Linked DNA regions of Homo sapiens. The protein of the gene in region 4 interacts with the protein of the main gene of each other region in a pairwise test. Each region holds a gene or a part of one and is shown on either strand. Other genes may lie near its edges. The genes, in order: NAV1, GTSE1, DHX37, KIFAP3 and PARD6G.

Region 1 (6,324 bases), about 32 Mb from region 4:
AATATGATTACTGTGGGGAATTAACAGATTAGAGGCTTGTTCATGCAGTCTTTTGGTAGTTCCTACAAAAAATAGGCTCCTTAAAAATATGCACTTCCTGGCCAGGCGCAGTGGCTCATGCCTGTAATCCCAGCATTTAGGGAGGCCAAGACAGGAAGATCACTTGAGGTCAGAAGTTCAAGACCAGCCTGGCCAACGTGGTGAAACCCTGTTTCTACTAAAAAGAAAAAAGAAAAAAAAAATTAGCCATGCATGGCGGTGCGTGCCTATATAATCCTACCTACTTGGGAGGCTGAGGCAGGAGAATCACTTGAACCTGCGGAGGTTGCAGTGAGCCACTGCACTTCAGCCTGGATGACAGAGCAAGACTCTGCCTCAAAAAAAAAAAAAAAAAAAAAGTGCACTTCCTCAAATGTAAATCCTCGAGGCTCTGATTTCTGTGGAGTTTTCCTGAGTTTCCAAACAAGGAAATAAGTTGGTATAAATTGTAAAATAATTTTGGAGGATAATTTAGCAGATTGTATTAAAACTTTAAAAAATATTTAATTTTTATTTTTTCAATTTATTTTATTCATTTTTTAATCAACAAAAATTATATGCATTTATGATGTATAACATGATGTTATGAAATATGTATTTGCCGTGGGATGGCTAAATCAAGCTAATTAACGTATGTATTACCTTACATATATATTTTTTCCCAGAGGGAGTTTCGCTCTTGTTGCCCAGGCTGGAGTGCAATGGTGCAATCTTGGCTCACTGCAATCTCTGCCTTCTGGGTTCAAGTTATTCTCCTACTTCAGCCTCCCAACTAGCTGGGATTACAGGCATGTGCCACCACGCTCGGCTAATTTTTTGTATTTAGTAGAGATGGGGTTTCATCATGTTGGTCAGATTGGTCTTGAACTCCTGACCTCAGATGATCTACCTGCCTTGGCCTCCCAAAGTGCTGGGATTAACAGGTGTGAGCCACTGCACCTGACTTTACCTCACATATTTCTGTGTGTGTGGTGAGAACACTTAAAATCTATTCTCAGCTGCGTGCGATGGCTCACACCTATAATCCCAGCACTTTGGGAGGCCGAGGTGGGAAGATCGCCTGAGGCTGGGAGTTCGAGACCAGCCTGACCAACAAGGAGAAACCCTGTCTCTACTAAAAATACAAAATTAGCCGGGCGTGGTGACACATGCCTGTAATCCCAGCTACTTGGGAGGCTGAGGCAGGAGAATCGCTTGAACCTGAGAGGTGGAGGTTGCAGTGAGCCAAGATCCCGCCATTGCACTCCAGCCTGGGCAACAAGAGTGAAACTCCGTCTCAAAAATACAAATAAATAAATAAAAACTATTCTCTTAGTGAGTTTCAAGTATATGATACATTGTTATTAACTATAGTCACCATATGGTACAATATATCTCTTGAACTTATTCCTCCTAACTGAAATTTTGTATCCTTTGACTAACATCTCCTCAACCACTCCTACTCACCTACCCCCCTGCCCAGCCTCTGGTAACCACCATTCTACTTTCTGCTGCTCTGAGTTTGACTTCATTAGATTCTATGTATAAGTGAGATCATGCAGTATTTGTCTTTCTGTGCCTGGCTTATTTCACTTAACATAATGTCCTCCAGGTTTATCCATGTTGTTGCAAATGACAGAATTTCTTCCCCATCCCCCAACCACCCCACCTTTTTTTAAGTGACAAGGTCTCGCTATGTTGCCTAGGCTAGACTTTAACTCCTGGTCTCAAGAGATCCTCTCGCCTCAGCTTCCAGAGTAGCTGCTGGGACTACAGGCATGCATCATCATGCCTGGCTTTGAATTTCCTCCTTTTTTACAACTGAATAATTTTCCATTGTGTGTATATATACCACATTTTCTTTATCCATTCATCTACTGATGGATGCCTAGGTTTCATTAAAACTTAACATGCACAAACCTCATGACCCTACAATTTCATTTTTCAAGTAGGAAATGTTTCCGCTTTAGTCATAATGCTTAATTTTTTTTTTTTAACTTTTTTTTTTTTTTTTTGAGACAGAGTCTCCCTCTGTCACCCAGGCTGGAGTGCAGTGGCGGTGATCTCGGCTCACTGCAAGCTCCACCTCCCAGGTTCACGCCATTCTTCTGCCTCAGCCTCCCGAGTAGCTGGGACTACAGGTGCCCACCACCACATCTAGCTAATTTTTTGTATTTTTAGTAGAGACGGGGTTTCACTGTGTTAGCCACGACGGTCTCGATCTCCTGACCTTGTGATCCGCCTGCCTTGGCCTCCCAAAGTGCTGGGATTACAGGCGTGAGCCACCGCACCCGGCTTTTTTTTTGTTTTTTACTTTCTTGAAAACAAATACTATCTGTGTGAAAATGCTTTTAAATTGAAAAGCTACTAATAATAATGCAACATTTCCTTAAAATAATATAATTTATAAATGAAATAATGATTTCTGGCATCAGTCTGACAGCATCTTTAGAAATTTACTATATCACCAGGAGATATCTATCTCAATAACAAGTTACTTTTACAGATAATATATGACCCATGGGTCTAGCCATTACATCACAGTTTATTAGTGCTGGAATGGACTTTAGTGATCATCATACCCTAATTTACAGGTAAGAAAACTGAGGTGGTTTTAAGAAAATGACATGTTCCTTTTGCACTAAGTTTTTATTCTAACTTTTAATTTTAATTGTTTTTTTTTTTGAGACAGGTTCTCACTCTGTTGCCCAGGCTGGAGTGTAGTGGTGAGAACATGGCTCACTGTAGCCTGTATATCCTGGCCTCAAGTGATCTTCTGGCCTCACCCTCCAGAGTAGCTGGGACTACAGGTGTGCACCACCATGCCTGGCTGATTTTTTTTATTTTTTGTATAGACAGGGTCTCCCATGTTGCCCAAGCTCCTGGGCTCAAGTAGTCCTCTCGCCTCAGCCTTCTAAAATGCTGGGATTACAGGCGAGAGCTACCAGGCCCAGCCTTATTTTAAGTTTTTTTGTTTGTTTGTTTGTTTTTGTTTTTGTGACAGAGTCTCGCTCTGTTGCCCAGACTGGAGTACAGTGGCGTGATCTCAGCTCACTGCAAGCTCTTGCCTCCCGAGTTCACGCCATTCTCCTGCCTCAGCCTTCCAAGTAGCTGGGACTGCAGGCGCCCACCACCACGTCTGGCTAATTTTTTGTATTTTTAGTAGAAAGGGGATTTCACCATGTTAGCCAGGATGGTCCTGATCTCCTGACCTGGTGATCTGCCCGCCTCGGCCTCCCACAGTGCTGGGATTACAGGCATGACCCACCACGCCCGGTCTCCTTATTCTAACTTTTAAAAATCTTTTCACATATTTCATTTTGTCTTCAAAAGACTCCAGTGATTTAGGTAGAGCAGAAGGTGATGTCTCCTTTTTTTTTTTACATATGAGGGTATTTAAAAAGGTCAAGTAACTTGGTTAATATAACATACTTATTAGTAGTAAGTAGCTAAGGTTTTGTTTGTTTGTTTGTTTGTTTTAATTAGGGTTTTACTTACTTCTTAGCTCAATTATTTTTCTGTTTGCTCTGACCCCTAGAGAGTGGTTTAAATTGGGCTTAGAGCCAGAAGGCCTAGGACTGGAGAGATGGCCCCAGAGGCAGTGGTCATTGTACCATTTGCTGAATGGCAGCTGGAGGCAGGAAAGCAGCTTAGTCTACCCAGTGCCTTGCTCCACCTGTTAGAAAGAGAACCTAACTAATCCTAGTAGTCCCATGCCTAACATTAAAGAAACATTCCTACTTTGTTAGGTAGGACAGCCTGATCTTAGGGTTTGAGTGAAGGGGGTAGGGCTCACCTTTATCCCATCCTTGGCTCCTTCCTGTAGATAGGGAATGATAGAGTTGTTCCACAGGTCAATGAACCAGGTCCGGAAGTCCTCAATGCCAATGGGACACGACAGAAAGAAGCAAGGGCCTAGGGAAGAGGATGGGGCCATGAAGATGGCTGGGAACCTAGATCTTCCCGGTTGTGTGCCTCTTTTACTCCTTAGTACCAGGCAGAGGGGTCTGACAGTCAAAGGATTAAAGGAAATTTAGAGTTGTCAAGACTAGTGGGTGCTGACTGCCTAGATGGCAATCTCATAAGTCCTGCTTCACAAGGTAGAAGTGAGATAAGGGAGTGAGGAAAGCTGTTTAATTCCTTCCTACATATGTGCCTCCTTTTTTCTGTTAATTGTGGGAAAAAAACAAGGAGAGGGGTTAGCTTTCTGGTGATTGAAGTGGTGCTAACTGTGTTGGGAAGGCTCGTTAAGTGGTTCTAAGTCTGAAGCCACAAGGCTTGCAGCTCCTTTACATGCCGAAGACTCCAGGAAGAGAAGGGAGCATCCCTCCAGGTGGTACAGTGGAAAAGGGAAGCCACCTCCTGACCCCCGGGGGAAGCTGGACCCCAGTACCGATGAGGAAGTCTGAGGTGCTGTGCTTCTCAAGGAAGGTGTGGAGATGATACCACAGCTTGGGTACCCAGTCGAGCACCCGAAGCAGCTCTTCCTTGTTGGCATTGATGTCGCTGTCTGACTCTACCAGCTTCCTCCTCAGGTAACGAACCAGGAAGCCATTGGCTGGCTCCACGTTGTTGGAGAAGGTCAACATCCTGCCACCAAGGATGGGGAAAGTGGGGTCAGAGTGGCAATGGGGACATTGTCAGGGTTCAGCCCCTGCCAGTCTGTCCCTCCTTCTGCCTGCTTCTCACTAATGCCTACTTGGTTTCTTTTCAAGTAATAGTGGGGACATCGGAACTCAGAGCAGCAGCCCTGGGGTGGTAGAGCTGATTCTCAAATTGGTAGCCCTCTTCGGATAACCTTCTGACATCACTGACCCAGATCAGCGTGTGCGGGCAGAGAATCCTAATTCTGCTTAGAGCAACCTACCTGGCTCTCTCTTAGCTTAGCAGGCCTTTTCTCTCCTCAAGTGTCCTCCTCCACCTTGTAACTGACATGACAAATACATCTACTTTCTATTTCCAGCCCAAAAAGCTCTGGATACTTCTCTTTCCTTCTCCTATCTACTGCCTCCTGGCCAGAGTCCAGGATTGAAGACTCTTGGGTAGGGTCAGAAGGTTCATCCAGAGCTAGAGGTCTTACCTGAAGCTCAAGTGCAAGCCATGGTTGGGTGTCATTTTTACAGGCTGATTGGTGGTACCTATAATATAGGGACTGTAGGGAGAAAGGGGAAAAAGATTCACTTAGACTTGCCTTCACACTTGCTTTCTGCCACATGCACACAACTCATAGGTTGTCCTGGACTGGGTTCTCCCTCCTCCCACTTCGATGAATTTTGTCTTGATCCCAGCTTACTTACCATTTATGATACTTGCAGGTGAGGGCCCCATTGACCAACTCACTGATGGAGCCTGCTTCACTCAGGTCATCCAATAGAATCACCAGGGGCACATCCCCAATTCCTGTTTCCCGGTCTATCTGGTTGGCTAGGTTGGAAAGATACAGTTGCAGATCCTGGAATAAAAGAAGGCTGTGGGTCAGCACTTGGGAATAAGCAGCTGGATCGGCCTTGGAAATCAGGATTTTGAAGAAGTCTTACTAGATCTAGATTCCCCTGGGGCCTTTAGTTCCTTGCAAATTTGATTACAGCAGATTACCACAGAGTGATAAGCAGTGGTTGCAAAGGCTCTAAAGCAACCCTCTTAAGCAGCAGCCCCTAAATTCCCCAAAGTTGGGGAACATATGCTATTTCCTAGATGGATTTTCACTGGTACCATGGACTACTACTAATGGGCATGCCTCCCCGAGCTGGGAAGAGCAAAGATCTGAACCAACTCCATTGTATTAGGGTACTCAAGAGACATCATCAGGTTTTGGCAGGGGAGGGTGTAATATGTACCATTTAATTCTGAGTGCTTCTTCCCAGATAGCCCAAGGTCAGAGAGTAATACTGAAAAGAAAAGTAGAAGGAAGAGAACAAAAGAGAAGGGATGGGATTGACAGGGTTGGCAGACAGTGGGGTAGAAATGAGGAGAATGCAGTTTCATCAATGACCAACTGAGGAGGAAGGTGCACAAAGCAAGGAAAAGTGTGGAGAGGAAAGCCTTTCTCCATAAAGGCAAGGGAAAGTGTGGAGAAACAAGTTAAAGGCAAGAGGCTGGAAAGAAATCGTGGGGAGGGAAAGGAGAAGACTGGAAAAGGGGATAGATAGAGAGGGAAGGAAATGAACACAGAAGAGAAGAAAGATGAAGGCAGAGGTGAGGAAAAGGGAACAATGAGGCAGGAAGGGGCCGAGGAAGGGTCTTAGGGAAGGCTGAGGCATGAACAAAGGCTGGCAGGGGTGTCGGGGGGCAGCCACCTTGCAAGAC
Region 2 (6,324 bases), on a different chromosome or scaffold from region 4:
TCCCGTTGGCTAATATGTGCATTTGTAATGTCAGGGGATATTATCTGCTTCCTTTCGGATACACTTTCTACACAGTAACGTCACCTTTTAAAAACACAAGTTAGATTATAAAGCTCTTTTCTTTTCTTTTTTCTTTTTCTTTTTTTTTTTTGAGACAGAGTCTCACTGTTGGCCAGGCTGGAGTGCAGTGGCGTGATCTCGGCTTACTGCAACCTCCGCCTCTTGGGTTCAAGCAATTCTCCTGCCTCAGCCTCCTGAGTATCTGGGACTACAGGCGCCCGCCACCACGCCCAGCTAATTTTTTTTTTTTTTTTTTTTTTTTTAGTAGAGATGGGGTTTCACTGTGTTAGCCAGGATGGTCTCAATCTCCTGACCTCGTGATCTGCCCGCCTGGGCCTCCGGAAGTGCTGGGATTACAGGCATGAGCCACTGTGCTCAGCCTTTTTTTTCTTTTTGAGATGGAGTCTCGTTCTGTCACCAGGCTGGAGTGCAGTGGCGACATCTTGGCTCACTGCAACCTCCGTCTCCTGGGTTCAAGTGATTCCCCTGCCTCAGCCTCCTGAGTAGCTGGGATTAAAGGCATGAGCCACCGTGCCCAGCTAAGTTTTGTATTTTCAGTAGAGACGGGGTTTCACCATGTTGGTCAGGACGGTCTCGAACTCGACCTCAAGTGATCCGCCTGCCTCAGCCTACCACTGTGCTGGGATTACAGGCATGAGCTACCACGCCAGGCCTAAAATTCTTTTCTTAAAGCCCGGTAATAGTTTCCTATCCCACTTTGGAGAAAATAAAAGCTCCTTGCCATGGCTTGCAAACCCTCTGTGATCTGACCCAACTTGTGTTTTCACCTCTTCCAGCCACTCTGACTTCTGACCCGTTCCTCTCACACACGCTTTGATATTTTCTCAGAGGTGTTCCCACCTCTACATGTCTCTCACCGCACTGCCTGAGGCACCCTCCAGGGTGGGCTGCATGTACCCCAAGCCTGCCTGGCACCTAGCGAAGGATGTGGTCTGTTGTGGGTGCTCATGTGTTTGCAGGATGAGCAAGTCAGCCAGCCCGGGACCCCTCGGAGCCAGTCACAGAGCCTGGAGCAGAAGACTGCTTCCCTGAGTTCTGGTCCTGGATTCTTTTTCCACGCCAGACCATTAGAAGTTTCTGAAATTGACTTCCTAATTTAGAGGTGTAAAAAGTGAAATGTCTGCCTCTCTATATCTCTAAGTCACCTACTTGCCCTTCCAAGGGCCATCGATGTCATCAGTCTCTTGGGTATCCTTCCAGACATAATTTGTGCAGGTGCAAGCCAACACGCATAGAGTGTTGCATCCCCCTTTCCATATAGCATGGAGAGCCCTGTCCTGAATCTTGTTTTTCAGGCTTAATTTATCTTGATGAATATTGTGTATCAACACATGAAGAGCATTACTAGCTTTTGTACCTATATAGGGTTCCACCTTGGGGATATGTCATTCATCTCATCTGCTGTGGGTGAACATTTAGTTTGTGCCTAGAGTCTTGCTGTTACCAATGATGCTGCAGTAAATAACTGTGGACACCGTGTAACTGCACAACACATTGCTTTCCACACCTGTGAGTGTCTGTAGGATACACTTGCAGAAGTAGACTTGCTGGGTCGAAGAGGGTGTGTGTTTCTTACTTCGATAGGTACTGCCAGGCCCTCTAGAGAGCTGTGATAATTTACACCTTCCCCAGCAGTGTAGAAATTGTCTCTTTCCCCACAACCTTGCCTATAGTTCATACATCTTTGAGTTTTGCCAGTCATATAGGCGAAAACTGCATTCTCAGAGCAAGTTTATTTTTAATACTTTTTTTTTTTTTTTTTAAGACAGAGTTTCCCTTTTGTCCCCTAGGCTGGAGTGCAATGGTGCGATCTCGGCTCACTGCAAACTCCCCCTCTCAGGTTCCAGCAATTCTCCTGCCTCAGCCTCCCAAGTAGCTGGGATTACAGGCACCTGCCACCAGGCCTGGCTAATTTTTTGTATTTTTAGTAAAGATGAGGTTTCACCATGTTGGCCAGGCTGGTCTCGAACTCCTGACCTCAGGTGATCCACCCGCCTCGACCTTCCAAAGTGCTGGGATTATAGGTGGGAGCCACAGCGCCCAGCCTCATTACTCTTATTTTTGAGTGAGGCTGAACTTCTTGCCATCTATTTAAGAATGTTTCGGCCAGGTGCGGTGGCTTGCGCCTGTCATCCCAACACTTTGGGAGGCCAGGGTGGGCGGATCACCTGAGATCGGGAGTTCCAGACCAGCCTGACCAACATGCAGAAACCCCGTCTCTACTAAAAATACAAAATTAGCCAGACATGCTGGTTCATACTGATCCCAGCTACTTGGGAGGCTAGGGCAGGAGAATCGCTTGAACCCAGGAGGCAGAGGTTGCGGTGAGCCAAGATCGCGCCATTGCACTCCAGCCTGAGCAACAAGAGTGAAACTCCGTCTCAAAAAAAGTAAATAAAGAAAAATAAAAAAGAATGTTTTGTTTTATTTTCTGTGAACTTTATCTGTTTGTATCCTTTTTCTATCTTTATTAGATTATTAATTTTTTATTACTTTATAGATATGCTTCATGAATTAGCCCTTTATGAACTGAGTTGCAAATATTCTTTTCCCCATTTCTTGTTTAACTTATTGTGATTTTTGCCACACAGAGATGTTAAAATTTTAATGTTTGAAGGTCAATCTTTTATTTTTTATTTATTTATTTTCTGAGACATGTTCTTGTTCTGTTGCCTGGGCCTGAGTGTAGTGGCGAGATTGTGGCTCACTGCAGCTTTGACCTCCCAGGCTCATGCGATCCTCCTTCCTAAGCCTCCCTGGTAGCTGAGACTACCACGCCTAGCTAATTTTTGTATTTTTTGTACAGACAAGGTCTCCCTATGTTGTCTAGGCTGGTCTCAAACTCCTAGGCTCAAGCGTTCCTCCCACCTCAGCCTCCCAAAGTGCTGGGATTACAGATGTGAGCCACTGGGCCCAGCCGACCAATCTTTGGTAGCTTCCAGTTTAGTGTCATAGTTAGAAGTCCACACTCCCAAGTTACAAAAGTTTCCTCATAGCTGATTCTTGTTTGTTTAGGGCTTTGTTTTTTTTCCATTAAGTCCTTGATTTGTTTGGAATTAGGCCTGATGTGGTGTGAGGCATGGACCAAACTTAGTTGGCATTTTTCCAGATGATTATGTAGTTTATTTTAATACCATTTTTTCACTTTCCCTCTTTTTTTTTTTTTTTTTTCTTTGAGTTGGAGTCTTGCTCTGTCACCCAGGCTGGAGTGCAGTGGCGTGATCTTGGCTCACTGCAAGCTCCGCCTCCCAGGTTCATGCCATTCTTCTGCATCAGCCTCCCAAGTAGCTGGGACTACAGGCACCTGCCACCACACCCGGCTAATTTTTTGTATTTTTTAGTAGAGATGGGGTTTCACCGTGTTAGCCAGGATGGTCTCGATCTCCTGACCTTGTGATCCACCCTCCTCGGCCTCCCAAAGTGCTGGGATTACAGATGTGAGCCACCCTGCCCGGTCTACTTTCCCTCTTTATTTGATATGTTACTTTTATGATATGCCAAGTCTTCTTTATATCCATTTTGCATATTTCTTGTTAGGTTTGTTTATCGTTATTTTGCATCTTTCGTTGCTGCTAGAAACGAAGTATTTTCTTCCATGTTATCTTCTCACTGTTCTTTGTAGATATGAAAGCTGTTGATTGCTCTGTAATGATTTTGTCCTTAGCCATGTTCTTTTATCCTTTTACTACTTATAGTAGTTTCCAGTTGATCTTCTTGATTTGTTTCTCGTGTCTATAATCATGGCATCTGTGCAGTGTGATCATGTTACCTCCACATTCCTTCCTTTGCCTGACTGTGTTGCTTTATGTGTCCAGAACAGTGTTAAGAATTGTGCTTGGAGATGTCATTGCCACGTGCCTGGCTTTAATGGAATTGCTTCTGTGGTTTTTCATTAAGTCCGATACTGGGTTATGGGTTAATTTCCAAGTAAATGGTAGTCGTAGGTGTGCTATTCATGAGCATTTCTATGTGTTTGTCTTCTGGGCATGTAATAGAATTGTACTCCCTGTTCACTTGAAATTCAGTTGGCTCTGGTGACTCACTTGGCCAGTGAAATGGGAATGTTGTCGTGTGTGTCATTTCTGGGTGGAAATCTTCAAGAACCAGTGTGGAATTGGTTCTTTTCCTTCCTGCCATGGAGACGAGCGGTGTTCCTGATGGTGGAGGCTCCATCAGTTGGGGTCCTGGAGTGAGGAGGCCAGGGAGCAGGGCCCCAGCCTACCCCTCTGCAGACATATAGTTTGAGTGAGAAATATACCTTTGTGGTTTTTGGTTTGTTTTGAGACAGTGTCTCTTGCTCTATTGCCCAGGATGGAGTGCAGTGGCTTGATCATAGCTCACTGCAGCCGCAAGCTCCTGGGCTCAGCATCCTGAGTAGCTGGGACTACAGGTATATGGCACCATACCCCGCTCATTTTTTTTTTTCTTTTTGTAGAGCTGGGGTCTCGCTATGTTGCGAGGGCTGGCCTTGAACCCCTGGGCCTCAAGTGATCCTCCTTGGCCTCCCATAGTGCTGGGATTACAGGCACAGGCCACCATACCTGGCCTACCTTTGTTGTTTTAAGGGTTGTTACTTCAGCATGTTAGCCTATCCTAACTGGTAAGATCAATTTGTTCCTGTCTTTAGAAGGAATACTTCTGACGTTATCCCACTGAACCTAATGCTGGCTTTGGGTTGAGATGGGGATTTCCTTATATATCTATTACTTTTTATTAAGAGCCTCTAAAATCAAGAATGTATGTTGTATTTTATCATATGCCCGTTCAACATATGTGCAGACGATCATGGTTTTCTCTTTAGCTCTAGTAATAAAATGATTATATGAGTAGATTGTATGAAATGAAACCATCTCACAGTCATGAAATGCAGGGAGCTTGGTTGTGTTATGTTATTACCACTTTAATGTTTGCAGGATTCTTTTTGCTGGTATTCTTGTTAAAGAGTTTGATGTTAGGCCAGGTGTGGTAGCTCATACCTGTAATCCCAGCACTTTGGGAGGCCAAGGTAGGAGGAATGCTTGTTCCCAGCAGTTTGAGACCAGCCTGGGCAACATGAGGAGATCCCATCTCTACAAAAAATACAAATATTAGCCAGGGATGGTTGTGCGTGCCTGTAGTCCCAGCTACTCGGGAAGCCGAGACAGGAGGATCCCTCGAGTCCAGGAGTTCGAGGCTGCAGTGAGCTATGATTGTACCACTGTACTCCAGCCTGGGTGACAGAGCGAGACCCTGTCTCAAAAAAAGAAAAAGGATTATTATGCTGATGTAAGTAAGGCTGGTCTTTACTTTCTTTATTGATCACTTTCTAGGTTTTTTGGTAACATACTTACTTGCCTCGTGGAAGTAAGTTGGAAAGTTTTTTTTCTTTTAATCCTCTGGAGTGATGTAAATAGTATTGGAATTATTTGTTCTTTAATGTTTTGATACAATTATCCTATGAATCTAGTTGGGACGCTTTTTTGAAGAGGATAGCTCTTTAATAAATTTCACCAGTTATTTTATGATTATTGAAGTATTAAGATTTTCCCTGTCTTCTGGAGTCAGTTTTATAAATAAGTACATTTAGACAATTTAAATAAAAAATAGACTGGATGCGGTGGCTCACGCCTGTAATCCCAGCACTTTGGAAGGCCGAGATGGAGGGATCACGAGGTCAGGAGATCGAGACCATCCTGGCTAACATTGTGAAACCCCGTCTCTACTAGAAATACAAAAAATTAGCTGGGCGTGGTAGCACGTGCCTGTAATCCCAGCTACTCGGGAGGCTGAGGCAGGAAAATCGCTGGAACCTGGGAAGCAGAGGTTGTAGTGAGCCAAGATCACACCACTGCACTCCAGCCTGAGTGACAGAGTGAGACTCCATCTCAAAAAAATAAAAAGAATATACCAAGTGCAGTGGCTCACGCCTGTAATCCCAGCACTTTGGGAGGCTGAGGCAGGTGGAACACAAGGTCAGGAATTTGAGACCAGCCTGGCCAACATGGTGAAACCGCATCTCTACTAAAAATACGAAAATTAGCCCGGTGTGGTGGCGCGCGCCTGTAATCCCAGCTACTCAGGAGGCTGAGGCAGAAGAATCTCTTGAACCTGGGAGGCGGAGGTTGCAGTGAGCCAAGATCACCCCACTGCACTCCAGCCTGGGCAACAGAGTGAGACTCCATCTCAAAAAAAAAAGAATAAATAAAATTATATTTTCCTAGAAAATTATCTCTTTCAGCCAAGTTCTTAGGTTTATGTGCATGA
Region 3 (5,227 bases), on a different chromosome or scaffold from region 4:
CCAAGGGAGAAGGAGGGAATGGGGGGGCGGCTGCAATCCTGCCTGCTGGGGGCTTTGGGTCCTGCTGGTGGCCTCTGGGGAGGGGTTGAGACAAGCAGGTGGCTGAGGCTAGAGCACTGAGCATGGTTGGGACTTTCTAGGAGGTCAGGGCAGAGCTGGCTCCGGGCCTTGCCACCACCGACCTCACTCTTGGTTCTCCCCTCAGTCAATGCCGTGTGCCCCGAGGCTGAGCTCTTCGTGGATCCCAAGATGCAGCCGCCCACCGAGAGCCAGGTGACCTACCTGCGACAGATCGTGACGGCAGGCCTGGGGGACCACTTGGCCCGCAGGGTCCAGAGCGAGGAGATGCTGGAGGACAAGTGGAGGAACGCCTACAAGGTGCGGCCCCCACCGCCTCCCTGCCCGGGTAGCTTGGGGCACCTGGTGAGGGGCAGGCGGGCTGGGCCCTCAGGGTCTGGGGAGGCTTGTTCCCTCTCAGCTGTGGGTCCCCACTGAGGAACAAGTGGGGCTTGCAGTAGAATCACATCTTCCTTGGTTAGTTTCTCCCAACTTTTTTTTTTTAATAACAGTTTAGTGGAGATAAAATTCACACAGCATTTAAACTCTTTTGGGGTTTTTTGTGTTTTCTAGAAACAAGGTCTCGCTCTGTTGCCCAGGATAGAGTGCAGTGGCACAATCATAGCTCACTGCAGCCTCGAATTCCCAGGCACAAATAACCTTCTCGCCACAGCCTCCTGAGTAGTTGGGACTGCAGGGGGCACACCACCACCTCCGACTAATTTTGTTGTTGTTGTTTTCTTTTTTGAGACAGAGCCTCACTCTGTTGCCCAGATTAGAGTATAGTGGTGCGAACTCAGCTCACTGCAACCTCCACCTCCTGGGTTCCAGCAATTTTCCTGCCTCAGCCTCCCAAATAGCTAGGATTACAGGTGTGTGCCACCATGCCCAGCTAATTTTTGTATTTTTAGTAGAGAAGGGGTTTCACCATTTTGGCCAGGCTGGTCTTGAACTCCTGGCCTCAAGTGATCTGCCCACCTCGGCCTCCCAAAACGCTGGGCTTACAAGCAGTGTTACCCAGGCTAGTCTTGAACTCCTGGCCTCTAGGAATCCTTCCACCTTGGCCTCCCAAAGTGTTAGGATGACAAGTGTGACCCACTGCATCTGGCCTGCATTTAAACCCATTTAAAGTGTTCAATTCAGTGGGTTTTAGTATTTTCACAGAGTTTTGCAACCATTATCATAGTTAACTTTAGAACATTTTTATTACCCAACAAAGAAACCCCACATATGTAAGCTGTGAGTCCCCAGTTCCCCGTCACCCCCGTTTTCATGATCCTGCTTTCCATCTGTGGATCTGCCTGTTCTGGACATTTGGCATGAGTGGAATCTTAACATACATGGCTTTTCATGTCTGGCCTCTTGCACTTAGTGTGATGCTTTCAAGCCCCATCCACGCCATGGCAGGTGTCGGTGCTTCCTTTTTTTTTTTTTTTTGAGAAGGAGTTTTGCTCTTATTGCCCAAGCCGGAGTGCAATGGCGTGATCTCAGCTCACTGCAACCTCCACCTCCCGGGTTCAAGCAATTCTCCTGCCTCAGCCTCCCAAGTAGCTGGGATTACAGGTGTGTGCCACCATGCCCAGTTAATTTTTTGTATTTTTAGTAGAAATGGGGTTTCACCAACATGGTGAAACCAGCCAGGCTGGTCTCGAACTCTTGACCTCAGATGATCCACCCTCCTCGGCCTCCCAGAGTGTTGGGATTACAGGCGTGAGCCATTGCACCCGGCACTTCCTTCCTTTTCACGGCTGGATCAGACTCCAGCGTGTGGATGGGCCGCATTTCCCGGCAGATGGAGCACTCTCCCACTTTTGCGGCTGGAGTGGATAATCAGATTCTTCTCCTGGGTTGAAAGTATGCGGAGCCCCTGGGCATGGGTTCTTCCCTGACCACATCACTCTCCATTCTCTGCAGACCCCTCTCCTCGACGACCCTGTCTTCATCCACCCCAGCTCCGTCCTTTTCAAAGAGCTCCCCGAGTTTGTGGTCTACCAGGAAATCGTGGAGACCACTAAGATGTACATGAAAGGTGCCGAGGCCTGCGGACAGCCCCTTGTCCCCCGATGGTGACGCTAATGGGGGTGTGGCTGGGACCCTGGGGCAGAGGCATGGCAGCCCCTCCCACGGAGGGTGCCGCTGTAACCCCAGCTTCCTCCCCCGGCCCCCAGGCGTCTCTAGCGTGGAGGTCCAGTGGATCCCGGCCCTGCTGCCCTCTTACTGCCAGTTTGACAAGCCCCTGGAGGAACCAGCCCCTACATACTGCCCCGAGCGGGGGCGGGTGCTGTGTCACCGGGCCAGCGTGTTCTGTGAGTTGGGGCAGTGTCCTGGGCAACCTGAGCCTCCTGCAGCCGTGGGCTTCTCGGACACACGGTCCTGTCCCCTGCCCCCGGACGTGTGTGTCTCGGGTGGGGCAGGGATGGGACTCGGGAGGGCAGCTGCAGGAGGGTCCCTGTCTCACTGGCTCCCACCTTCTAGATCGCGTGGGCTGGCCGCTCCCCGCCATCGAGGTGGATTTTCCAGAGGGGATTGACCGCTACAAGCACTTTGCCCGGTTCCTGCTGGAAGGGCAGGTAGGTGGCACAGCGGCTCCAGACCCTCATCTCGGGTACCGTGGGCAGCAGCAGCCCGGGCCTCACCCCTTCCTGTGGTCTCTCATCAGGTCTTCCGCAAGCTGGCCTCATACCGGAGCTGTCTGCTGTCCAGCCCCGGCACCATGCTGAAGACGTGGGCCAGGTACTGCCTTCGGTGGGAGCCTCGCAGTGGGCAGGAGGGGTCCGAGGCCTGAATGACCTCCCCGGGGCTGCCAGGACAAAGCACCACACACAGGGAGGCTTAAAACATCAGAAGTCTGTGCTCAGGTCTGAAGGCTCTGCAGAGCCACGGTCTGTGCAGCGGCTCTCGGGGAGGGTCCGTCTTGCCTCTGTCGGCCTCCTGGGCTTGTGGCCACATCACTCCAGTCTCTGCCTCCATCTTCACGTGGCCATCTCTCTGTGTGTCTTTAGTCTCCCTCCCTGTGTTCTCCTTATAAGGACACCAGTCATTGTATTCAGGGCCCACCCTACTCCAGGATGACCTCTCCTTAACTCATGACATTTGCAGTGACCCTCTTTCCATATAAGGTCACACGCTGATGTTCTGGGTGGACATGAATATGGGATAGGGGAGACACTGGGCAGCTCCCACAGAGCCGCCAGGTGTCAGTGGGAGGCATCCTGCCCTCCTGGCCCTGGGGACTTCCTCCCAGCTAAGCAGACCCCTGCCCCATCCCGCCCACCACCTCTGCTTCAGGGCTCACCCTTGCCCTCTGCCTCCTGCTTCTGCTCTCCTCCTGCCTGTGGTCCAGACCCACAGACACCTCCCCCTTCCTGGGGCTGGTGGGGCCTATGGTGCAGGGGCTTGGGGCACTGGAGGCAGGCCTGAAGGTGCAGGCAGGTGCCAGGGACTCGAGATGGGGCGTGGGGCACAGCACCCGCTGCTGGGCTGTCAGGAGCCGTGTCAGTCACTCAGCTCACGTTTTCCAGTGTGGCCCTGTCCCAGGCATGTTCTCGGGGCTGGGATACAGACACGATCTCTGTCCCACAGCAGCGTTGCTCGGCCCCAGAGGGACAGAGCAGGACATGAGTGAGGCCTCGGTGGGCAGGGGGTGGAGTGCGACTGGGCTGGTCGGGGAGAGCCTCACTGGGCAGATTCAAAGGAGCCAGGGCTGCAGCTGGGCACAAATCTGGAGGAAGGTTCTAGATGAGACAAGTTGCATGCACAGAGCAGCCTTGGTGGGCAAGGAATGTGGACCAGAGGCAGCCAGGGTGGATGGGAGGAGGTGGGATCTAGAGCCTTCTGTCCCGGGATGATTAGGGGAAGGGGACCCTTTGCCTTCTCTTTTATTTTATTATTATTATTTATTTTTTAGAAGGCCTGTCTAGAGAATTATGTTTTTTTGCTTTTGAGTTTTGTTTGTTTGCTTGTTTGTTTGAGACAGAGTTTTGTTCTTGTTGCCCAGGCTGGAGTGCAATGGCGTGATCTTGGCTCACTGCAGCCTCTGCCTCCTGGGTTCAAGTGATTCTCCTGCCTCAGCCTCCTGAGTAGCTGGGATTACAGGTGACCGCCACCATGCCCGGCAAATATTTTTGGATTTTTAGTAGAGCTAGGGTTTCACCATGTTAGCCAGGCTGGTCTCGAACTCCTGGCCTCAGGTGATCCACCTGCCTCAGCTTCCCAAAGTGCTGGGATTACAGGCGTGAGCCACCACGCTCAGCCAGTTTGTTTGTTTTTGAGACAAGTTCTTGCCCTGTTGCCCAGGCTGGAGTGCAGTGGTGCAGTCATGGTTCACTGCAGCCTCCAACTCCCAGGCTCAAGGGATCCTCCTACTTCAGCCCCCTGAGTAACTGGGGCTACAGGTGCATGTCACCATGCCCAGCCAGCTCTTCACCCTCCTGGGTGGGGCTGGTGGGGTGGTGATGCCTGCCCTGCTTTCGGGCCCCCAGCAGCAGCCGGTCTGTGCCCTGGCTGCCTGCCACCAACGTGCATTCCTGCCCCACAGGCTGCAGCCCCGTACGGAGAGCCTTCTGCGAGCCCTGGTTGCAGAGAAGGCTGACTGCCATGAAGCCTTGCTGGCTGCTTGGAAGAAAAACCCCAAATGTGAGTTTGACCAGGGCCAGGGGGTGGGAGTAGACAGGATGGGGTCACTGAGGCAGGGGCTTTGTGCTTTGTGCACGGTCAGCCCTGGCTTGGCAGAAGGATCTGGCCCCACGGCTGCTGGCCAGCTTTTTGCCACCTGAGGAGAGTCCCTGGGCCCAGGGTCACCCTGACACTGTCCTCCTTCCCTCCCCTGCAGACCTGCTGGCTGAGTACTGTGAGTGGCTTCCACAGGCCATGCACCCCGATATCGAGAAAGCCTGGCCCCCCACCACTGTCCACTGACCAGAAACCTGGCTGCAGGGCCGAGGACTGGTTTGGGGACTGGAGGGCTGGCAGCAGCCTGTCACCGTGCGACCGTGACCACCTGGCATGGGCTTCGTGGCCTGCTCTCAGGAAGTGGGTCAAGCCCTGGGAACCCTCATCCATGAGAGCTCGATCCCGTATGAAGGGTGCTGCCGCCCGTGCCATCTGGCCCGGGGGTGACTTTTTGAACTGTTTATTATATGGTGGATGATGATTTCATCTCACGTGCTGG
Region 4 (6,324 bases):
CTTCCATATTTTTCTCAGTATTGCGGGACCTTTCCCTGTCCACTTAAAAATTTAAAATTGTGTTTCAAATTCAGTAAAATACCTTTTGGGATAATGACTGACATAATGAATTTTCAGATTAAGGCATCTATCCATGAAAATGATAAATCTACTTTTAAGATTTAATTTTCTTTTAATGAAATGATATAAATTTCTTTAGAAAGGTGATGCCCATCATTTATTATTAGATTTATTCCCAAGTACCTTATATTGTTATTTGCATTTGTAAATAACTTTTTTGCTAACAATATTTAACCAACTATATCAAAATTCAATTTGGGAGTGGGAGGTATATAGATGTTACATCCAGCAACTGTTGCTTAATACCTTGATATTAATGCCAATAGCTTGAACATTATTTTAGGTTTTCTCTACAAACTAATATATAATTTGTGAATAATATCAGTTTCATTTCTTCTCTTCCTATCTTTATACCTTTTCTATTTCTTATCTTACTACCTGTTTAGGACTCCTGGTGAAATGTTGAGGTGGTTACATAGGTATCCTTGGATCATCCTTAATGTTAAGGGAAATGTTTCTAAAGTTTCCTCATTTACTGATGTTACTTTATTTTTTGAGAAAGGGTCTCACTCTTGTCACCTAGGCTGAAGTGCAGTGGTGTGATCACAGCTCACTGCAGCCTTGCCTCCCAGGCTCAGGCAATCCTCCCACCTCCACCTTCCAAGTAGCTGGGACTACAGGCATGCACCACCATGCCCAGCTAAGTTTTGTATTTTTTATAGAGATGGGGTTTCAACATATTGCCCAGGCTAGTCTTGAACTCCTGGGCTCAAGCGATCCACCAGCCTCAGCCTCCCAAAGTGCTGGGATGACAGGCATGAGCCAACACACCTGGCTAGTTTCCTCATTTAATATGTTTATATCATAATTCCCTTTTATTTATGGCTTTAGTTTTTTCCTTAAATCATGAATGTGTAGTGAATGTCATCAAATGTTTTTCTGCATCCATTGGAGGATCATGTATTGTTCTTCTTTAATTCATAAATATACTACATCAAATTCATTAAATACATAAAACCATACTCATATTCTTAGAATAAGCACAACTTGTTAATGCTGTCTTAAAGCACTGTTAGATTAAATTTGCATCCTTGCTCATTCAGCCTGCAATTTTCCTTTCTAATGTCCTTTTTCTGACTTTCATATGGAGATTATTCTAAAATCTTAATATAAATTAGTTGAGGAGTATCCTTTTTTTTCTAGACTTCTTGGAAGAGTTGTACATAATTGGAAGCATCTGTTTCCCAAAAATTTTGTTAGAATTTGACTTTAAAACTGTCTGGATGTAGCAGATTTTATCAGTATGAAATACTCCTCTGTAGTTTTTACAGTATACGTTTTCTTAAAGCCTATTTTATCTGACATTAATATGGTCATTTTAGCATTCTTATGCTTACTGTTTGATTGCACCCATTTACCATTAACTTACCATGTCCATACTTAAAAGTATATTTTTTGGGGATGACAGATAGTTGGGTCTTGCTTTTCTTTTTTCTTTATAAAAGAAATATTGGTGGCCGGGCGCAGTGGCTCACGCCTGTAATCCCAGCATTTTGGGAAGCCGAGGTGGGTGGATCATGAGGTCAGGAGATCGAGACCATCCTGGCTAACATGGTGAAACCCTGTCTCTACTAAAAAATACAAAAAATTAGCTGGGCATGGTGGCGGGCACCTGTAGTCCCAGCTACTTGGGAGGCTGAGGCAGGAGAATGGCGTGAACCCGGGAGGCGGAGCTTGCAGTGAGCCAAGATCATGCCACTGCCCTCCAGCCTGGGCGACAGAGCAAGACTCCACCTCAAAAAAAAAAAAAAAAAAAAAAAAAAGAAATATTGGTAATCTCTGCCTTTCCATTGGAACATTAAAACCTATGCTGTCTGATACAATAGTCACTAGCTACATGGGTCTATTTAAAATTAAATTTAAATACATTACATTTTAAAAATAATTAAAAATGCAATTCCTTAGCTGTACTAACCACGTTCAAAGTGTTCATTAGCCATACAGCCAGTGGCTATGTATTTGATGATGCAGCTGTAAGTCATTTCCATCAGGGAAGAAAGTTCTATTGGACATTATTGTTTTGGATCATTTAATGCAATGACTGACATACTTAGATTCAGATCTATCACTTCATTTTTATTTCCTGTTTGGCCCAACTATACTTTGATTATTTTCCTAACAGCCTTGTGAATTATTATTTTTTAAATTCCATTTTGTGTAGATGTTTTCACTATACTTTTAAAAACTGTTTTTGGTGGTTGCTTTAGGAAAAACAATGTTTTAGTTACCTTTTTTTTTTCACAAGGTATTTAAGAATTAATGCTGTGCTACTTCACAAATTGCAGGTCTATTGCCTACACCCCCCCCCCCATTCTTTATGTTATAGCTGTCATATGCATTATGTGTACATACCTTATAAACTCACACAAAAATTTCATAATTTTTGCTTTCAAGTCATATGTATTTTTAAAAAATTAAGAGGGAAATAATCTCTTATATGTACTCAAATATTTATAATTCCTGATGCTTTTCATATTGGTAAAACCAAAACAAGTTTTATATTTCTATTACTAACATTAGACTTGGTAATAGAGAAACAGAGGATTAAGGTAATTCAAACCAATGCACCTTCTAAGAAAATCTTAAAAGCTGGGGGCAAAAACACGTATGTGTGTATCTGTTTGAGGCCATAAGAGAACTAAAAAGGCACAAAAAATTACAGTGCCAAGATCCAGGAGAAAAAGAAAATGAAGAGAGGTAAATCTTGAATTTGAGGCTACTTTTCCCTAGAGGTATCTGCTAACTGAAAAGAGAGGGCTGAGAGGTTGAGAATCTTTTAATAATCACATGAGGCTAGAGACACAAAAACTGGATTCTAGAGTGCACCAAACAACAGTGGCTCTGGTAAAGCTCCAAGCTTTAAGCTTGAAACAGGAGGACTACCTCCTAGGAGTAACTGTGAAACAGATGCAGATCGGTCACCAACAAGACTAAAAAGCCCAGTTTAATGTAATTGAATCTCTGAGAACTAATTAAGGTGACCCTAAATTTTCAGTAATCCTTACTAACATAAATAAAATATAATCTTCTCTGGAAAAAGAGAACATCATCCTGAGCCTCAAATGATTATTTATACATTTATATTCCTATATATGATACTCAAAGAATAGTCATCTTCAGAAAAAACTAGATAATTTTTTTAAATTTCTAGAATTAAAAATACAATAACCAAAATTAAGAATAATAATAAATAAATAGGTTTAATAGCAGATTAGATACGGGTAAGGAGATAATTTATGGCATAAAATATAAGTCAGAAGAAAACACCCAGAATAAAACATAGAGACAAAAAGATGTAAAACACAAGCAAAAGTATAATTCAGCAATGCATACTGAGTAGGTCTAGCATATGTACTTGAAGTCCCAGAAAAAAGGTGAGAGAGAATGGGTACAGAGCAATATATGAAAAGATAATGGCTAAGTGACATCAGTGAAAACGGCAGAGTAGGGACCTCTAGAGGCTGGCACTCCCCAGAAGCACTAAAAACTTGGCAAAAAAAACCTATCACAATCAACCTCATCAGAACTCTGGAAGACAGTCAAAGGTTTACAGCAACCAAGTGAATGTTTAATCAGAAGAAAGGTTACAGAAACAAGGTAGGCGATCATTATGGTCTTTTCACTTACCCTAGACATCCACCCCACTCTCAAGCACAGTGGCAGTCTTCAAGATGGCAGCCCACGTTCCCACTGTTAATACTTGGTTCTAGAGGAGTCAAGTGGACCTTGCTCCCAAGGAATTTTGTCTGATTGTTTTGCAACTGACTGAAGTTTCCTTTGAGGTCAGCTGCAAGGGGCTTTCCTTTGTTTTGACTAATTTTAAACTCTTATCAGGATAGTGCAGCTATGCAGTCACTGAAATCAGTGAAAGCCAAGCATACAAGCTGCTGGCCCCTGGGATAAATAGTAATAGCTGGGTCAAACAAAACACAAGCTGAAAGCCCAAGAGGAAAGTCCAGGGAGTCAGACATTTTGGGGGAATAGATGCTTTGAAAAGCTATTGCATATAAAGAGAAATCTAGAAATCCATGAGCATGCTCAGGGCAGAATACATACCCAGAAAAAACCTGGGAAGATCATAAGCTTTTACCTCTGGCTGGTCTTCAGGCTCTGTGCAAGCAGCAAATGAAGGCTAAGGTAAAATTGTAAATTGCCTGGCTAAGTGTTGAAGCCATATCCAAACACTGAGTCAACCTACAAAGATCTGAAGAGTATTTTTTTCTTTTCTTTTTTTCCTTTGGATACCATAATATTCAAAATACCCAGTTTTCAACAAAACAAAATATGAAACATGCAAAGAAACAAGAAACTCATTCTCATTCTCACAATAAAAAAAATTAACAGAAACTGTCCATGCTACAGCACAAACACTGGACTTATCAAAGACTTTAAATCAACTGTCTTAAATATGTCCAAAGAGCAAAAAGAAACCAGTGCAAATAACTAAGAAAAAGGAGAAACACAATGTCTCAACACATAAATAGTTTAAAAATATATTATCATAAGGATCCAAACAAAAACACTAGATCTGAAAAGTACAATAACTGAAATAAAAAAATCACTACAGGGTTTTTAACAGCAGATCTGAGCAGAGAGAGAAAAGAATCAGCAAACTTGAAGATATGTCAAATGAAACTGTCCATTTTGAGGCACAGAAAGAAAACAGAATGAAGAAAAATAAACAGAACCTAAGAGACTTATGGAACACCATCTAGTATACCAACATATGCATAATGAGGGTATGAAAGGAGAGGAAGAAAGAAACATAGAGAATACTGGGAGAAAAAACAGTCAAAAACTTCCCAAATTAGACCAAAGACAAACTTACACATCCAAGAAGCTCAATGAAATTCAAAGATAAACTCAAACAGATCCACAATAAGACACTCTATACTGACGCTCTATTTAAAAAAATAAATAAAAGATTTTGAATTAATAACCTAATTTTACACCTTAAGGGGCTAGAAAAAGAAGAGCAAACAAAACCCCAAGCTAGCAGAAGGAAATAATAAAAAGCAGCAACAGAGACTAGAAAAAGAATAGAGAAAATGAAACCAAAGGTTAGTTCTTTGAAAAGATCAACAAACATTTTTGGAAAACTTTTAGTTAGACTGACTAAAAAAGAAAAGAAGAGACTCAAATTACTAAAATCAGAAATGAAAGTGGGACATTACTGCTGCTCTTTTGATGATTAAAAAATTACAAGAGAATAATATGAACACCAACAAATTGGATAACCTACATGAAAAAGAATAATTCCTAGAAACACACAAACTACCAAAACTGACTCAAAAGACACAGAAAATCTGAACAGAATTAGAAGTAAGGTGATTGAATCAGTAATCATAAACCTTTCAACAAGTCCAGTACCAGATGGCTTCACTGGTGAATTCTACCAAGCATTTAAAGACAAATTAACATAAATACCCCTCAAACTCTTCCAAAAGATATAACAGTAGAGGAAACACTTCCTAATTCATTCCATGAGGCCACCATTACCCTGATACCAAAGCAAGACAAAGACACTACAGGAAAACCTTTAGACCAATACCCTTTATGAATGTCGATGTGAAAATCCTCAAAATACTAGCAAACAGAATACAGGAGTATATTAAAAGGACCACGCAACATGGCCACATGGGCATTTCAATACAATACACCACATTAATGGAATGAAGAAAAAAAGTACATGATTATCTCAATCGATGCAGAAAAAAGCATCTGACAAAACCCAACATCTTTTCATGATAAAAGTACTTGATAAATTAGGAATAGAAGAAAAGTCCCTTAACATAATAAAGGGCATATATGAAAAATCTACAGCCAATATCATACTCAATGGTGAAAGAATGAAAGCTTTCCCCCTAAGATCAGGAACAAGACAAGAATGTTTATCCACTTTCCTGACTTCTATTCAACATAGTACTGGAAATTCTAGCCAGAGCAATGAGGCATGGGAAAAAAAAATAAAAAGGCATCCAGATTGAAAAAGAAGAAGTAAAATTATTTCTATCTGCAGAAGACATAATCTTATATATAGAAAATTCTAAAAATGGCACAAAAAACTGGCTAGAGCTAATAAATTCAGCAAAGTTGGAGAATAGATCAGAACACACCAAAAAAATCCACTGTTTTTCTACATATTGGAGCTGAAAAATATGAAAAGGAAATTTAGAAAACTTCATTTCCAATAGCATCAAAAAG
Region 5 (6,324 bases), on a different chromosome or scaffold from region 4:
GAAACTGAATTGCTCAAGAACAAATCTCCTTTTCTACCTCCCTTTCAAAAAGCACTTCCCCCAGGTTACCAAAAGCAAAACAAACCTCTCATCCATTGTGCACTGCCCTCAGCAATTAAAAAAAAAAAAAAAATCTCCAGGGCCTACAACAATGGGACAATTCAAAATACTGGCTTGGGGCAGGCATGGTGGCTCACGCCTGTAATCCCAGCAGTTTGGGAGGCCAAGGCGGGCAGATTACTTGAGGTCAGGAGTTCAAGACCAGCCTGGCCAACATGGTGAAACCCCATCTCTACTAAAAGTACCAAAAAATGAGCCAGGCATGGTGGCACACACCAGTAATCCCAGCAATCTCAGGAGTCTGAGGCAGGAGAATCCCTTGAACCTGGGAGGTGGAGGTTGCAGTGAGCCAAGATCATGCCACCGCACTCCAGCCTGGGCAAAAGAGTGAGACTCAGTCTTAATAATAATAATAATAATAACAATAGTTTGGGAAAAGCCACTTTCAATGACTAATCAAAGCCCCTCTAACCTACGGTCTACATACTCAGTAAGGGAAGAAGTGGGACCCCAGAACTTGGTATTTGGACAGTTACATGCTCTGAACACGGCTGCACCCTGGAAGGGGCAGAGGAAAGGGCTCTCCTCTATCTCCTGCTATTGTCAGAAGTGCAGAGCAGAGCAAACCCTTGAAATCTCTCCCCGTTATTCAAGGGGAAACGTTCACCCAAGGATGACACTGGTACAGCATGTAGGCGATGCAGATTCTTTCACACACAGGGGCTCCAAAACTTTAAGACACACATGTAAAGCCTACAACATCAGTTTTATGCGGTATCTTTCAGATCACAAAGCATTTATTTCACTAACATCAATCCTTGTCTTTCCCATCTCACATAGCTCATATATACTCACACGGTTTGCATCTGTGTCCCCACCCAGGTCTCATGGTGAATTGTAATCCCCAGTGTTGGAGGAGGGGCCTGGTGGGAGGTGACTGGATCATGAGGGCAGAGCTCTTATGAATGGTTAAGCCCAACTCCAGGTGCTGTTCTTGTGATGGTGAGTGAGTGAGTGATCACGAGATCTGGTTGTTTTAAAAGTGTGTAGCACCTTCCCCCTCTTTTAGTCCTGCTCCTGCCATGTAGGATGCCTACTCCCATCTTGCCTTCTGCCATGAGTAAAAGCTCCCTGAGGCCGTCCCAGGAGCAGATGGTCACCATGCTTCCTGTGCAGCCTGTGGAACCGTGAGCCAATTAAGTCTCTTTTCTTTATAAACCACCCAGTCTGTAGTCTTTCTTTACAGCTATGTGAGAATGGACTAATACATATACCAACTTCCAAAGCAATTTCCTTGTATCACTATATGGCTTTCGTTTAACTGAATACATAAGATAATTTAATCATGTCTAATGCAACTAGTAAGAGTGTTTTTGAATTTTATATAATTCTCACTTCAGTATCACCGCAAAGGGATACAGCTCACTTTCACCTCAGGAACGCCAGGCCTCCCTGAAACAGCATAGGCTAAATGTTAGTTCTACAATGTTTCAGTCTTAACTTTATTTAGCAACTAACCTAAAACACATCTCAGTTTCTCAGTACGTTCAATAATTTTCTCAAAATATGTCTTAGCATGTTAACTTGAAATGAAAAATAAATTCAGACTGTTTCCTGAGAGAAAACAAGGTTGATTTGTGTTTAATGATGAGGCTGACTTTGCCAACCCAGCTATATGGTAAACATGCTTCATATGTTGAATGAGCTCCAAAGTTTTGACAAAAAGAGATGTGAAATGTGACATGACAAAAGCATTGTATTTAAAAATCATATTGGTATTGGGTACTAAATATTTTTATTTCCCCATGATATCAGATTAAACAAGAGTCCTCTAAATGAAGGAATTAGCAGGTATAATTCATTGTCACATACTTCTTGGTAAAGTCCTTCCAGTATACTTACCAGAAACTGAAACAGTGAATGGCTCTAATGACCAGGCAATAAACCTTGCAAGTCAAGTAGTTTCCAATTACTTGCTTTTGACAAAATATAAAGTTGTCCTAACTGAACTGTCAGCTAATTATCAAAATAATTTTGAGAGACCACCCTATTATTTTTGTCACACAACCTGTTGAGAGTTCAAAGAACTGAGCTGTGCTTAGGGGCCTTCACTCTCATCTACCTGAGTGTGCAAATGAAGCTTCACAGTGTTGACACCCAACAATAAAAATTGCAAAACAATTAGTGCCAGCCTACCTCATTTATCAATAAATACTTAACAGTAAATGAAAGATTCTTCAAATGTTTATTTGGATGGCTAGTGATTATCAATAAATACTTAACAGTAAATGAAAGATTCTTCAGATGTTTATTTGGATGGCTAGTGATTATCAATAAATACTTAACGTAAATGAAAGATTCTTCAGATGTTTACTTGGATGGCTAGTGATTATCAATAAATACTTAACAGTAAATGAAAGATTCTTCAGATGTTTATTTGGATGGCTAGTGATTATCAATAAAGACTTAACAGTAAATGAAAGATTCTTCCGATGTTTATTTGGATGGCTAGTGATTATCAATAAATACTTAACAGTAAATGAAAGATTCTTCCGATGTTTATTTGGATGGCTAGTGATTATCAATAAATACTTAACAGTAAATGAAAGATTCTTCCGATGTTTACTTGGATGGCTAGTGATTATCAATAAATACTTAACAGTAAATGAAAGATTCTTCAGATGTTTATTTGGATGGCTAGTGATTATCAATAAATACTTAACAGTAAATGAAAGATTCTTCCGATGTTTATTTGGATGGCTAGTGATTATCAATAAATACTTAACAGTAAATGAAAGATTCTTCCGATGTTTATTTGGATGGCTAGTGATTATCAATAAATACTTAACAGTAAATGAAAGATTCTTCCGAAGTTTATTTGGATGGCTAGTGATTATCAATAAATACTTAATGTAAACGAAAGATTCTTCAGATGTTTACTTGGATGGCTAGTGATTATCAAATTGCACAACTATGTTCCAATCACCATTTGATAATACTTGTTAATAACTCAATCTAGAAATTTACTATAACAATCTATTTCATTTATAATTGTGGTAAAACACACATAAAATTTACCATATTAGCTCTTTTTAAGTGTACAGTTCAGGAGTGTACATTCACACTGTTATGCACCCACTCTCTAGATTGCTTTTCATCTTGCAAGCTAGAACCCTATACTAGTAAACAACTTAAAAATATTTTTAACAAATAGAGCCCCAGGACCACAAGAGAAAAATATTTGAACTTCAATTTATACATATTTTTTGTTGCAGAGAAGAGTAACAGGGGTAACGAAGCATAAGTTATTAGAATAAAATATTAGGACAAAAATCTCTTGAGGGAGTAATGGGAAGAAGAAATCAAAGAGAAAAAGAAACCATGTATAATTTCTGATTAGAAAAGAGCTCTTCAGAGTCAGAAAAGTGGCAAAAATAAGAGTCTGTTTATCCTATTTTAAAATGCATGATAGTGGTATCAAATCACTGCAGCATTTAGATTTCACTGTATCAAATCACTGCAGCATTTAGATTTCACTGTATCAAATCACTGCAGCATTTAGATTTCACTGTATCAAATCACTGCAGCATTTAGATTTCACTGGCTGTATTTAGAAGATCATGCACCAAAAACTTTATTTGTAATGGAATATTTACAGCATGCTGTAAATTACATCCTTTGCAAACTATTTATATTTACTAAAAAAAATTCAGGTACCAACTTAAAAATATATCATCCCCTTTTATAGTGGTAGTTTTTCAAAATTCTTTCAGGCTTCATGTGACATTTGAAGACCACAACATCAGAGTTCAGGGATCACTATGAAAATGCCTAAACCACCATTAAAGGTTAGCAGGAGACTTGGCACTCCCTAATATTTTCATTGTTTTTCATGTGGGTGTTTGTTCGTATAGCAGGACTTACAACAGGACGGCTGCTTCAACATCTGCTGGGCTTCATTCATTCACCTACTATCCCGCACATAAAATGCCTCAAAGGGAGCCATCCTATCCCGGGAGGTCATCTCCTCACTCCAAACCAGTGACCAATTTCAATGAAAGATCAATACTCAAGCCAGGCATGGTGGTATACACCTGTAGTCCCAGCTACTTGGAGGCTGAGGCAGGAGGATCACTTGAGCCCAGGAGTTCCAGGTCAGCCTGGGCAACATAGCAAGACCTTGTTTATGTTAAAAAAAAAAATCAAATTTCCTAAAAAAGATTGCATTGCTGTGCCTGGCCTAGGTTAGTAGCAAGTTAATAGATAACCCCATCAAAAAGTCCACATTGGCCAGCGATGGCTGATGTCTGTAATCTCAGCACTTTGGGAGGCCAAGGGAGAGTCCGAGACCAGTCTGGCCAACATAGTGAAACCCCATCTCTACTAAAAATACAGAAAAACTTAGGCAGGCGTGGTGGCACACGCTTGTAGTCCCAGCTACTTGGGAGGGTGCTCCAGGAGAACTGCTTGAACATAGGAGGCAGAGGGTGCAGTGAGCCAAGATTGCACCACTGCACTCCAGCTTGAGTAACAGAGTGAGACTCCATCTCGAAAAAAGAAAACAAACAAACAAACAAAAAAAAAAAACACACCTTTCCCTCACCAGTACCCTGACACTATGAGCTGTATCATTTCCCCTTAAAAGGACCCATGGTTCCGAGGCAAAATGGCTAATTCCAGGTATATGGCAAGAAATGTATGTAAGCCTATGAATCCCATGTTTATTTTTAAAGAATAAGATTATTTGTTATTGGGAAATACACAGGTGTGCAAATTCTTATTCTTCAATGCTTCTAGCTAAATGAACCCTCATTCATTATTTAGATAATGATTATTCTATTTTGTAGTTGACCCCAACTATTATTCCTACAACAGGATAGTAAAAAACGGGGTTGGGGGAGATTTCATCTTTTAAAATTATTAAAAATTATCTCAAATACAAAATACCAAGATCAATAAGCAAAAGCGTATCAGCATCTGGCTAGGTGTGGTGGCTCACACCTGTAATCCCAGGACTTTGGGAGGCCAAGGCAGGTGGATCGTTTGACTCTAGGAGTTTGATACCAGCCTGGGCAACATGGGGAAACCATGTCTCTACAGAAAAGTACAAAAATTAGCCAGGCGTGGTGGCACACGCCTGTAGTCTCAATCACTTGGCAGGCAGAGGCAGGAGGATCGTTTGAACCTGGGATGTGGAGTCTGCAGTGAAGTGAGACTGCACCATTGCACTCCAGCCTAGATGACAGAGTAAGACCCTGTCTCAAAAAATACAAAGTGTATCAAAAGCTTCTAAATGCAAATCATTTTTATTTTCTTTAAAATGTATTCAATGATAACATCATTATACTATAAATAGAAAATAAGAAATGTCCATCTATCACCTATATCATATCAATCTCTATTAATCATATCTATCTATTCCCCCAACTCTAACTTCTTATCATAATTTTGACCCTTTTCCTTCCAGAAGAAGGGATAGAGCTCGAGAAGTGCTTGTTGAATGAATAATACCTTGGAGCCAGTTGCGATAAAAGTAATGTTCCATACAGCTCTTGGTCAATAAGCAAGGAGACAAAAAGATGATGGAAACCCAAGACAGCTAGGAGCCTGGGAAGCACGACAGGAAAGATGACAGGACAGTGCTGTTTTAAGTTAATCTCCAAGCACTTCCAGAATGGAAGACTAGGACCTGCAAATCTCTGCTTATCCATTAAAGACAGAATACTGGGAAAAACTGTCAAAACCAACTTTTAGAGAACCGTGGAAATTAATCAATGGCTTGCAACAATGCAAGGAGTGTTTATTCTAGAAAAGCAGCTGAATCTCAGTAAGAGCAGCAAGCTTTGCGGTGCTTTCACTTCCTATCCACCTCTCAACTGTGAAATCCAGCAGCCTCACAGCCTGGGAGGGAGCAGAACCAGTCTGGAAGTTCCCCAAAGCCCACACTCAGGACTGTCATCGTCAGACCTGTCTTGCAGCTCCAGGAAAAGCCCTTCTCATAGGGTCAAGTTCAGTGGGAAAAGCCTTGTCCCCAGGGCATTTGCTGAACACAATCAGCATCAGCTGTTTAACATTTAAAGCTAATATGATCAAAGTTTAAAAAAAAGTTTTTTTCCATGGGCCAAGTTTATTTTGTTAGTAGGACCAAAATAGGTTATCTACAAAGGGAACGACTAATTATAAACAAATAATTATTGCATACTCCCTGCCAATTTTACATCTCTTGCCAGATACAAAGCATTTACTTTAATGAACTTACAACGA

What was found.
Region 1: the proteins of KIFAP3 (region 4) and NAV1 interact in a two-hybrid assay, tested with the Homo sapiens proteins (one large-scale study listed by BioGRID).
Region 2: the proteins of KIFAP3 (region 4) and GTSE1 interact in a two-hybrid assay, tested with the Homo sapiens proteins (one large-scale study listed by BioGRID).
Region 3: the proteins of KIFAP3 (region 4) and DHX37 interact in a two-hybrid assay, tested with the Homo sapiens proteins (one large-scale study listed by BioGRID).
Region 5: the proteins of KIFAP3 (region 4) and PARD6G interact in a two-hybrid assay, tested with the Homo sapiens proteins (one large-scale study listed by BioGRID).

The regions. Positions count from the first base shown.
Region 1 is NC_000001.11:201,810,749-201,817,072, reverse strand, and holds part of NAV1 (neuron navigator 1), read right to left. Parts: coding exon 6,315-6,324; intron 5,471-6,314; coding exon 5,316-5,470; intron 5,171-5,315; coding exon 5,099-5,170; intron 4,609-5,098; coding exon 4,412-4,608; intron 3,934-4,411; coding exon 3,815-3,933; intron 1-3,814. UniProt on the Homo sapiens protein: May be involved in neuronal migration.
Region 2 is NC_000022.11:46,299,662-46,305,985, forward strand, and holds part of GTSE1 (G2 and S phase-expressed protein 1), read left to right. Parts: intron 1-6,324. UniProt on the Homo sapiens protein: May be involved in p53-induced cell cycle arrest in G2/M phase by interfering with microtubule rearrangements that are required to enter mitosis. Overexpression delays G2/M phase progression.
Region 3 is NC_000012.12:124,947,549-124,952,775, reverse strand, and holds part of DHX37 (probable ATP-dependent RNA helicase DHX37), read left to right. Parts: intron 1-205; coding exon 206-378; intron 379-1,971; coding exon 1,972-2,086; coding exon of another isoform or gene 2,087-2,123; intron 2,124-2,225; coding exon 2,226-2,363; intron 2,364-2,532; coding exon 2,533-2,627; intron 2,628-2,716; coding exon 2,717-2,790; intron 2,791-4,594; coding exon 4,595-4,692; coding exon of another isoform or gene 4,693-4,832; exon of another isoform or gene 4,833-4,867; intron 4,868-4,888; coding exon 4,889-4,974; 3' UTR 4,975-5,227. UniProt on the Homo sapiens protein: ATP-binding RNA helicase that plays a role in maturation of the small ribosomal subunit in ribosome biogenesis. Required for the release of the U3 snoRNP from pre-ribosomal particles.
Region 4 is NC_000001.11:170,063,757-170,070,080, forward strand, and holds part of KIFAP3 (kinesin-associated protein 3), read right to left. Parts: intron 5,162-6,324; exon of another isoform or gene 3,748-5,161; intron 1-3,747. UniProt on the Homo sapiens protein: Involved in tethering the chromosomes to the spindle pole and in chromosome movement. Binds to the tail domain of the KIF3A/KIF3B heterodimer to form a heterotrimeric KIF3 complex and may regulate the membrane binding of this complex.
Region 5 is NC_000018.10:80,204,490-80,210,813, forward strand, and holds part of PARD6G (partitioning defective 6 homolog gamma), read right to left. Parts: intron 1-6,324. UniProt on the Homo sapiens protein: Adapter protein involved in asymmetrical cell division and cell polarization processes. May play a role in the formation of epithelial tight junctions. The PARD6-PARD3 complex links GTP-bound Rho small GTPases to atypical protein kinase C proteins.